2 separate regions of the Homo sapiens genome follow, and region 1 is linked to region 2. The links come from fine-mapping of genetic effects on gene expression. Tissue or cell type: esophagus mucosa. Region 2 holds a variant in brackets; the other region holds the start of a gene. All regions are shown on one strand. Distances are from middle to middle.

The links. PIP is the estimated chance that this variant, and not a neighbour inherited with it, causes the effect. A credible set is the group of variants that fine-mapping cannot tell apart.
Region 1: it holds the start of UBA7, and the variant in region 2 is the best candidate, but not a certain one, in a credible set for the expression of UBA7 in esophagus mucosa (GTEx, PIP 0.64).

What each region holds. Positions count from the first base shown.
Region 1 is chr3:49,812,241-49,816,399 of GRCh38, forward strand. It overlaps UBA7 (ubiquitin like modifier activating enzyme 7), which reads right to left and starts at 1,713. Exons shown (of 24, transcript NM_003335.3): 1 at 1,492-1,713; 2 at 1,239-1,407; 3 at 1,009-1,143; 4 at 822-928; 5 at 408-498; 6 at 168-303. The coding sequence starts at 1,547. RefSeq lists an enhancer at 1,447-1,836.
Region 2 is chr3:49,839,086-49,843,244 of GRCh38, forward strand. TRAIP (TRAF interacting protein) reads right to left here. Exons shown (of 15, transcript NM_005879.3): 6 at 3,368-3,462; 7 at 2,741-2,854; 8 at 1,900-1,987; 9 at 1,199-1,288; 10 at 687-775. Among named protein-coding and RNA genes, the nearest start is that of TRAIP, 15 kb to the right of the region's middle. The variant T/C (reference allele first, on the strand shown) is at 1,560.

The sequences.
Region 1 (4,159 bases), 27 kb before region 2:
TGAGCCTGAGTAGTTCCCACACCCCATCCTATCTTGCATCTGTGTCCCAGACCTTGCTGCACCTTGTAGAAGGTGGAGGGAGAAAAACCCATCCCAAGGGCCAGGCTGTGCTCACTTCCAGTGGAGGCTTGGGCCCTGCACCTGGAATTGGAATGGGATTGGCTTACCCCGCACGTGGATAGACCGGGGATCACAGTCGTTGAGCTCAACCATTCCCTCAATTCCCGAGAAAGTCACCAAGTCTCCATCACGGAAGTAGTGGGTATTGGCCCCTTTCCTCAGAGTGAGAATGCCAGGGGAGCCCTGGGTAGGAGGAGGCTTGGCTCAGGGTTGCCTGGACCTGCCTTCCACAGGCCCTGGCAGCCTCTCCTTGGTCAGCAGGTGAATGCCTACAGCTCAGCACCCACCTGGGAGATGTGCTGGATGGCAGCTGTCAGGGGTTCTGCCTCTGTGGGGTCCTGCACAGTGAAGTCCTCACCAAAGTCACAGAACAACTGCCTGAGATGGGGTGGTAGGGGTCACTGAGGTGGCTTACAGATTGTACTTAAGGATAGGGGATACTAGGGCAGGGCCAGAGGGCCAGAATTGGGAAAGGAATGCAAGGAGAGGCTTGGGAACTAGAATTTGAGAGGGTTACTGGAGCAGGTCTGGAGGCTAGGTTGGAGGAACCAGAGGGCAGGACTGGGGACCAGAATCAGAAAGGCATGCTGGGATAGACCTGAGGCTGGTTGGAGGGGCACTGGAGCAAGCCTGGAGCTGAGGACAGCATGAGGCCAGTTGCTGGCTGTAATATGGTAGGCTGGGCAGGCAGTCTTACTCACCCCACGAGGCCCCGGGTGTCAGCCGCCAGAAAGCAAACTCCATGCTTATGACACAAGGTGCCCACCTTCAGCTGCTCCTCCAGCTTTGCAGCAGTCAGCACCACCACCTGGGTGGACACAGTGATCAGCAGGGCCAAAACCATTGCCCAGCCCTTCCTGCTCTTGAGGGCTGCAGGCCTGAGCTGACCTGGAAGTCCAACAGCAGGTCCTCAGTGATGTCACCCGTGTGCACGACGACCTGGACAGCTCTGTTGAGCTGAGCCAAGAGCTCTTGAGAGGCCTCGGCTCTGCTCCTTTCCAAGTCCTGCTCTGAGAGGAGAAACTAGGGAGAGAGCCAGTGCAGCCTGAGCAAAGACACTCCTCTTGGGCCGTGCCCCCACCTTGGTCTGGCAGCCCATAGCCCCCCAGGACACTTACCTGGGCAGCCAGGTCGGACCAGCAGGTGGGGTGGGGATCATGCAGAGTGAGGCTGCCCACACCCATCAGAACCAAGTTCTTGGCCACCTCGGCCCCCAGGCCCTGCAGGCCTGACACCAGGACCCTGGCTCCCTGAATCCTCTGCATGGCAGGTGAGCCCAGCACATACCTGTGGATGGGAAGCAGAAGGCAAGCAGTTGTAGATCAAGGTCTGAAGACCATCCCACTCTCCACCCCCCACCTCGGGCCTCACAGCTGTCTTGAATACAGCTCCTCATCCAGTAGCTTCGAAGCGTCCAGGGCATCCATCCTCAAACCTGGGGCTGAACAGTAGGCTGCAGCGCTCAGAGATAGGGTCTTTGTGTAGGTGGCGGTGACAGTAGGGGCCAGTGCCCTGCTGTAGCCAGTGCAAACAGGAACCAAGGCCAAGCGAATAAGGGACGCTGCTGGTCACAGCTCTCTTCCTGGAGAAAAGAAAAGTGAAAGTTAAACTATGCTCTGAGCTGGCTCCTGATCCTGCCTCCAGACGCCAGCCCCAGACAGGCCATTCAGGGTCTAAAACCTGGGATGAGTTCCAGGACTCTCAAGAGGTGATCAGTCTCTGAGTGTCAGACCTGAGGGTGGGAGGCATGGGGCAGCCACATTCACACATGTTCTTATTTTCCTTTTAGACTTTTATTTTGAAATAATTATAGACTCATAAGAAGTTGCAAAAAAAATAGTGCAGAGAGGTCCTGTGTCTCCTTTTGCCTTCTTAGGAACCTGGGGCCAGTTCTCTGGGAGATGGACCACTGTTTGTCACGAAACTACGTAATAGCCAAACCAAGTGCTGTCTTAAGTTCTTTTTTGTTGTTGTTGTTAATTTAGGTGAAATTCATGTAACATAAAGTTAACAATTTTAAAGTGTACAATTCAGTGGCATTTAGTGCATCCACAGTGTTGTTCAACCATCACGTCTATCTAGTTCCAAAATATTTCATCACCCACAACGAACATACCAAACACATTCAATAATTACCATACATGTGGCCGGGCATGGTGGCTCACACCTGTAATCCTAGCACTTTGGGAGGCCAAGGCGGGTGGACCACCTGAGGTCTGGAGTTCAAGACCAGCCTGACCAACATGGTGAAACCCCATCTCTACTAAAAGTACAAAAATTAGCCAGGCATGGTGGTGCATGCCTACATGTAATCCCAGCTACTCGGGAGGCTGAGGCAGAAGAATTGCTTGAATTCGGGAGATGGAGGTTGCAGTGAGCTGAGATCGAGCCACTGCGCTCCAGCCTGGGCAACAGAGTGAGACTCAGTCTCAAAAAAAAAAAAAAAAAAAAAAAGAATTGCAAAATGTGACCTCTTATGTCTATTTCCTTTCACTTAGAATGTTTTCAATGTTCATAGAGTTTATAGCCTGTATCAATATTTCATTCCTTTTAATGGCTGAATAATAGTCCATTATATGTATATACCACAATTCGTTTATCCATTCATCTGTTGATGGACATCTGGGTTATTTCTAACTTTTGGATTTGTGAATAGTGCTGCTATGTCCTTTTTTTTTTTTTTTTCTTTTTGAGACAGTCTCACTCGGTTGCCCAGGCTGGACTGCAGTGGCACAATCACAGCTCACTGCAGCCTCGATCTCCTGGGGTCAAGTGATCCGGCTGCCTCAACCTCCCAAGTAGCTGGGACTAGAGGTGTGCACCACCATACCCTGTTAAAGTGGTTTTTGTTTGTTTGTTTGTTTTTGAGACAGGGTCTCACTCTGGTTGCCTAGGCTGGAGTGCAGTGGTGTGATCATGGCTCACTGCAGCCTCAGTGTCTTGGGCTCAAGCAATCCTCCCACCACAGCCTCCTGAGTAGCTGGGACCACAGGCATGCACCACCACATCTGGCTAATTTTTCTTTTTTTTTTTTTTTTGAGACGGAGGCTTGCTCTGTCACCCAGGCTGGAATGCAATGGCACAATCTTGGTTCACTGCAACCTCCGCCTCCTGGATTCAAATGATTCTTCCGACCCAGCCTCCTGAGTAGCTGGGATTACAGACACTGCCATCATGCCCGGCTAACTTTTGTATTTTTGTAGAGATGGGGTTTCACCATGTTGGCCAGGCTGGTCTTGAACTCCTGACATCAGGTGATCCCCCCGCCTTGGCCTCCCAGAGTGCAATTTTTCTTTTTTTACTTTTAGTAGAGACGGGGTTTTGATATGTTGCCTAGGCTGGTCTCGAATCTCTGGACTCAAGCAATCTGCCCACCTCAGCCTCCCAAAGTGCTGGGACTACAGGCGTGAGCCACCGCACCTGGCTTTGGCTAATTTCCTAATTAATTACTTGCTTTTGTAGAGATTGGGGGTGGGTATTGCTATCTTGCCCAGGCTGGTCTCGAATGCCTGGCCTCAAGTGATCCTCCCACCTTGCCCTCCCAAAGTGCTGGGATTACAGGTGTGAGCCACCATGCCCAGCCTGATTCTTGAACAAGTACTATGTTGCCCAGGCTGGTCTCAAAATCCTGGGGTCAAGTGCCTCGGCCTCCTAAAGTGCTGGGATTACAGGTGTAAGCCACAGCGCCTGGGCTTTCAGCTTTTTTGGGCATATACACAGGAGTAGAGTTGCTGGGTCATATGGTAATTCTGTGTTTGTTTATTATTTATTTATTTATTTTGAGACAGGATATCACTCTGTCACCCAGGCTGGAGTGCAGTGGCGCAATCTGGGCTCACTGCAGCCTCAAACTCCCTTCCAGGCTCAAGTGATCTTTCTGTCTTAGCCTCCCAGGTAGCTGGGACTACAGGCATGCGCCACCATGCCTAGCTAATTTTTTGTAGAGATGAGGTCTCACCATATTGCCTAGGCTGGTCTCAAACTCCTGGGATCAAACAGTTCTCCCACCTCAGCCTCCCAAAGTGCTAGGATTACAGGC
Region 2 (4,159 bases):
GGCTGAGGCAGGAGAATTGTTTGAATCCAGGAGGCAGAGATTGCAGTGAGCCGAGATAGTGCCACTGCACTCCAGCCTGGCAACAGAGTAAGACTCCATTAAAAAAAGAAAAAGGAAAAAAAAAAAAAAGACTGGGGCCACTGACAGGAGTTGTGTGCTTTCTGTCTGGGTCCTTGCTGGGGACTTTTGGCAGGCAGGAGGTAGCCTTGAGGATGCTCTCAGCTAGTCTGCTTCTGTGAAACTCTCAGGAGCAGAAATGGATGCCCATGCTTGCAGGGACACCAATCCTTCTGCCTCGTGGCTCCCTCTGCTGGCAGCTTTAAAGCACGCACTCCTGGCACTAAGGGAATTATTTTACAGTGGTTTCATATTTGTTTCAAAATCTGGGGTGGACAGATAAATGTGGGGAGCTACTCCATAAACAGGATGCCCCAAGACAGTCAGTGCTTCTGCCCTATTCTCAGACCACTTCTAGGTCCTCTGGCCTTCTCTGGCCTCTCCGTGTCAGAGCCTAATTTGCTTCAAGGCTGCTTGCCAGCTAAATCTTGGCTGGCTCCCAGGGCAGGCTGTCTGCAGACATCAGGTCCACAGAGGTCACCCACCCCACCAAAGCCAGGAGGAGTAAAGACTGTTACCAGAAAGCTCTCCCACCTTGTGACCCCTGTACCGCCCAAGGCTCAACAAACCTCTCTAAAACCAGGCGGTCGACAGTCTCACTGGCCACTGGTGGCAGGTTCAAGGTTTCCTGCAGCATCGTTAGCTTCTTTTTCAGGCTCTTGGGGAGGGAAAGAAAAGTGTGTGAGAGAAAGGCTGAGGCATCAAGTCCGGAGATAATGCAGAGGACATGAGCAGCATGCATGAAAGGCCAGCCCACTGGGAACAGAGCAAGGCCTGATACCTCATCATTAGGCTCAGGAGGCCAAGCCCCAGGTAGAGCCCCTCCTCTGATAAGGGACCTCAGGGATGTAAGTGCAGGACAGACTATGAGGGAAGACTCATGGTTCTGTCTGCCCTCTGTTGAGGAGGCCCAGGCTCCAGTCCGGACCAGGGCCAAGGGGCACACCCTGACCCAGGAGGATGCAGGGGCCCAGAACCACCACTGACTGGTGCAAGGGTCCTGGGCAGAGATAGCCCAGCCCTGCTCTGGGAGGGCACACAAACCACCCCTCATTCCTGTCAAGCCAGGGATGTCCCTCACCATGATTTCCTTGTCAGCACTCTGTAAGTCCTTCTGGGCTGACTTCAGTTCTAACTTGGCCTGATCCAATTCAGAGTAGACTGTCTGCAACTATAAGAAAGTGTAGGGAATGAAAGACAAGCCAAGTGGTAGCCTTGTGCCCTGCCCCCTCCTGCTGCTCCCCAGGGAGTGATCAAGGTAGCCCAGAAGAGACTAGAGATATGGGCAGAGATCCCAGCTCTCTGAGGCTAGGCCTCAGTCTGGCAATGCACATCCGGAGCTGCCTAGAAGCAAAGGCTGCTTCCTACATCCTGCAGCCTGTGGATGCACCATGCCAGAAGTAAAAGCAGCTGTGCTGACCGAATCAGGTTCCAGGAGCCCT[T/C]CTACTCCAGATGTGGTACAAAAATAGGCCTCTGATGCTGTCACATTTGAGGCCTGTGCTCTCCAGCCAGCTGAGAGGTACCCAGGAGCCAGGAAGAGCAGAGGGGAGCATCAGTGTCCACATGTTGGGGGATACCTCTGTGATCTGTCCACCCCTAGTGGACAAGCCACATATTCAGGCCAATGCCCAGTAAGGACTGGTAACAAATTTCTGTAAGTCCTCCAGCTGCCCCAGGGAGTCAGCTGTGCCATCAGGTCCCATGGCCTTGCTCAGGAGACCAGAGTGAACATGACAAAAGGAGAGCCACTTCTCCTTCAACCTCTGTTCACTGCTAAGTTACCTTGCTTCTGGAGGAAAACAAATCCTTCCTCAGCTTGTCAGCCACCTCCCCTGAGGCCTTCCGTGCCTCTTTTAGATTCTCGTACTCTCTGCAATGTGGCCATGGAAAGAGATGCCAGAAAAGAACACCTGCAGGTCAGACTGAGCCACAGCACTAATCTAACACAAAGCACTGCCCAACCCCTCAACTCACTCTCATTCCTACTTTGACACCTGAGCCCAACAAGTACCAGGTGGCACTGTGGAGGGTCCTGCAGAGAATGCAAGGAAGTGACTATTTCCTCCTGCCTGTCCTGCAGGCACTGGTGACTTGAGAGGGCATGCAGAAAGCCCCAGTCTCACTAGGGGGCTCCCTAAACCACCTGGTCTTAAAGGAGGCATCTTGGACCCTCTATGCCTCTCAGCTAAGTGGCCCTCCACCCTTCCTGCCAACCTTACACCCACCAGAGTGAAGAATATGAGTAGAGTTTGATCCCAGCCAGGCAGGATCATAGTGCTAATGGGGAACAGGCTCTACATATCAATCACAATGGGGCTTATAGCCCAGAGAGCTAGGTCAACTCCCTTAGAAACAGCACTTAAGATTCACACTAAATCCTCAACAATCCTATGAGGCAGGTCTACTACTATTTCCATTCAGGAAGTTGAGGGTCAAAGAGGCCAAGAAACTGGCAGCAGGCCACATAGTTGCTGAAAGGTGGAATCAGGGTTCAAACAAAGGCAGCATGGCTCCAGAGTTTGCCCCTTAGTTCCATCTGCTTTACAAGAGATGGGGAGCAATGACACGGCTGGGGCCCCATGGCCTATCTCCTGTGTTTGCTGAGAGGGGCCACAGTACGCACTTCTTGAGAGACACACAGTACACAGCCAGCTGTTCCACCGCTGACTGTCCCACACCCATGTCTCGGATCATCTCCTCCACCTCAGGGCGCTGGCTCTGGAGTAGAAGCTCAATCCTGAAAAATACACCCAGCCCACGGCATTTGCAATCTGGAGGCTGATGGGTAGGTACCCAGTGCCGCTCTGCCTTCCTTTGCTGCCGTTGCTAAGGTAACAGGCTAGGCTGCCAGGATGCTTTAGTAGGTGGGTGTGCCCAAGGAAAGGCCCTGTGGCAGAGATGAGCATAGCTCCAAGGATGCTGCTGAGAAAGAAGAGGTGCTGAAAGAGGGTCTCAAGGTCAGGGATTTCCTGGAGAGAGGTTTCTGGAAGGAAAGACCCACCAGGTCATCTGGCCACAGGCAGCAGAGACAGGGAGGAATGTGGCAAGGGCTCCCATTCCTTGGAATGGGGGAAGAGTTCATAGAGGCTAAGATCTGTGCCCACACCCAGCTGACCTGAGCCCTCCATGGCCTATGGAGATTTGAGCCTCGGACATGACCCAATCCCACTCCCTGCTGCAGTCCTAAGAACTGTACCACTTGCAGGCCCTGGGGGCAAAGGCACAGTGCAGGACCCAGCTCCAAACTCACTGCTCCATGGTCTTCATCTTGCTCCTGAGCCGGCGGGCCTCCTCTTGTGCTTGTTTGGTCTCATCCTGCTGCTGCTCTAAGTACTTCATCTGCTTCTGAAGAGCAAATACACCCATACCTGATGCTTGGAGGCCCTCAGGAGCCATTGCTAAAGTCACTAGGAAAACTCTGCTCCAGAACTCTCTGCAGCTTATGTTTTGAAAATGCTGATAACCATGTACTCCCAAACCCCAGGAGGTAAAGCTCCTGGGTCCCACTCTCGCTTGTGCTTCTTCTTCTAAAAGGCTCTAAGCCAGCTGCTTCTTCACCTCCCTGCCTGCTTCCTCCTGAAAGGTATCTTACAGTAGACACAGCCCACTGCCAGCATTTACAGGCCCACTGTGGGCTGCCAAGGTCCAGTGGTCTGGGCCTCATGGTACATGTTGTGCAGGTGGCTGAAGAAGTCCAGAGCACAAACCCAGGCCTCACCATCCAACACCCAGACCCATGGACAGTTGCCAAGAATGAATAATTGAGCCAGGGGAAGCTGGCCAGGCTGCCTTCAGCCTAAGACCACTTGTCTCTGACCTGAGAATACCATGAGAGACTCCTGCTCTGCAGCCAGGTGCCAGTTTGCTCCCTCCCACCAGCCAGACCATGTGATCCAGCCCAGCCCCCAAGCAGGAACAGAGACAATGAATATCCTGGGGCCTTGTCTGTTCACAAGGATGGCTCCCTTTCCCTTTCAAATGGCATCCAGCAAGGACTGCTCCTGCCTACAAGGCCAGAATATCAATCGTGGGTTCAGATCAA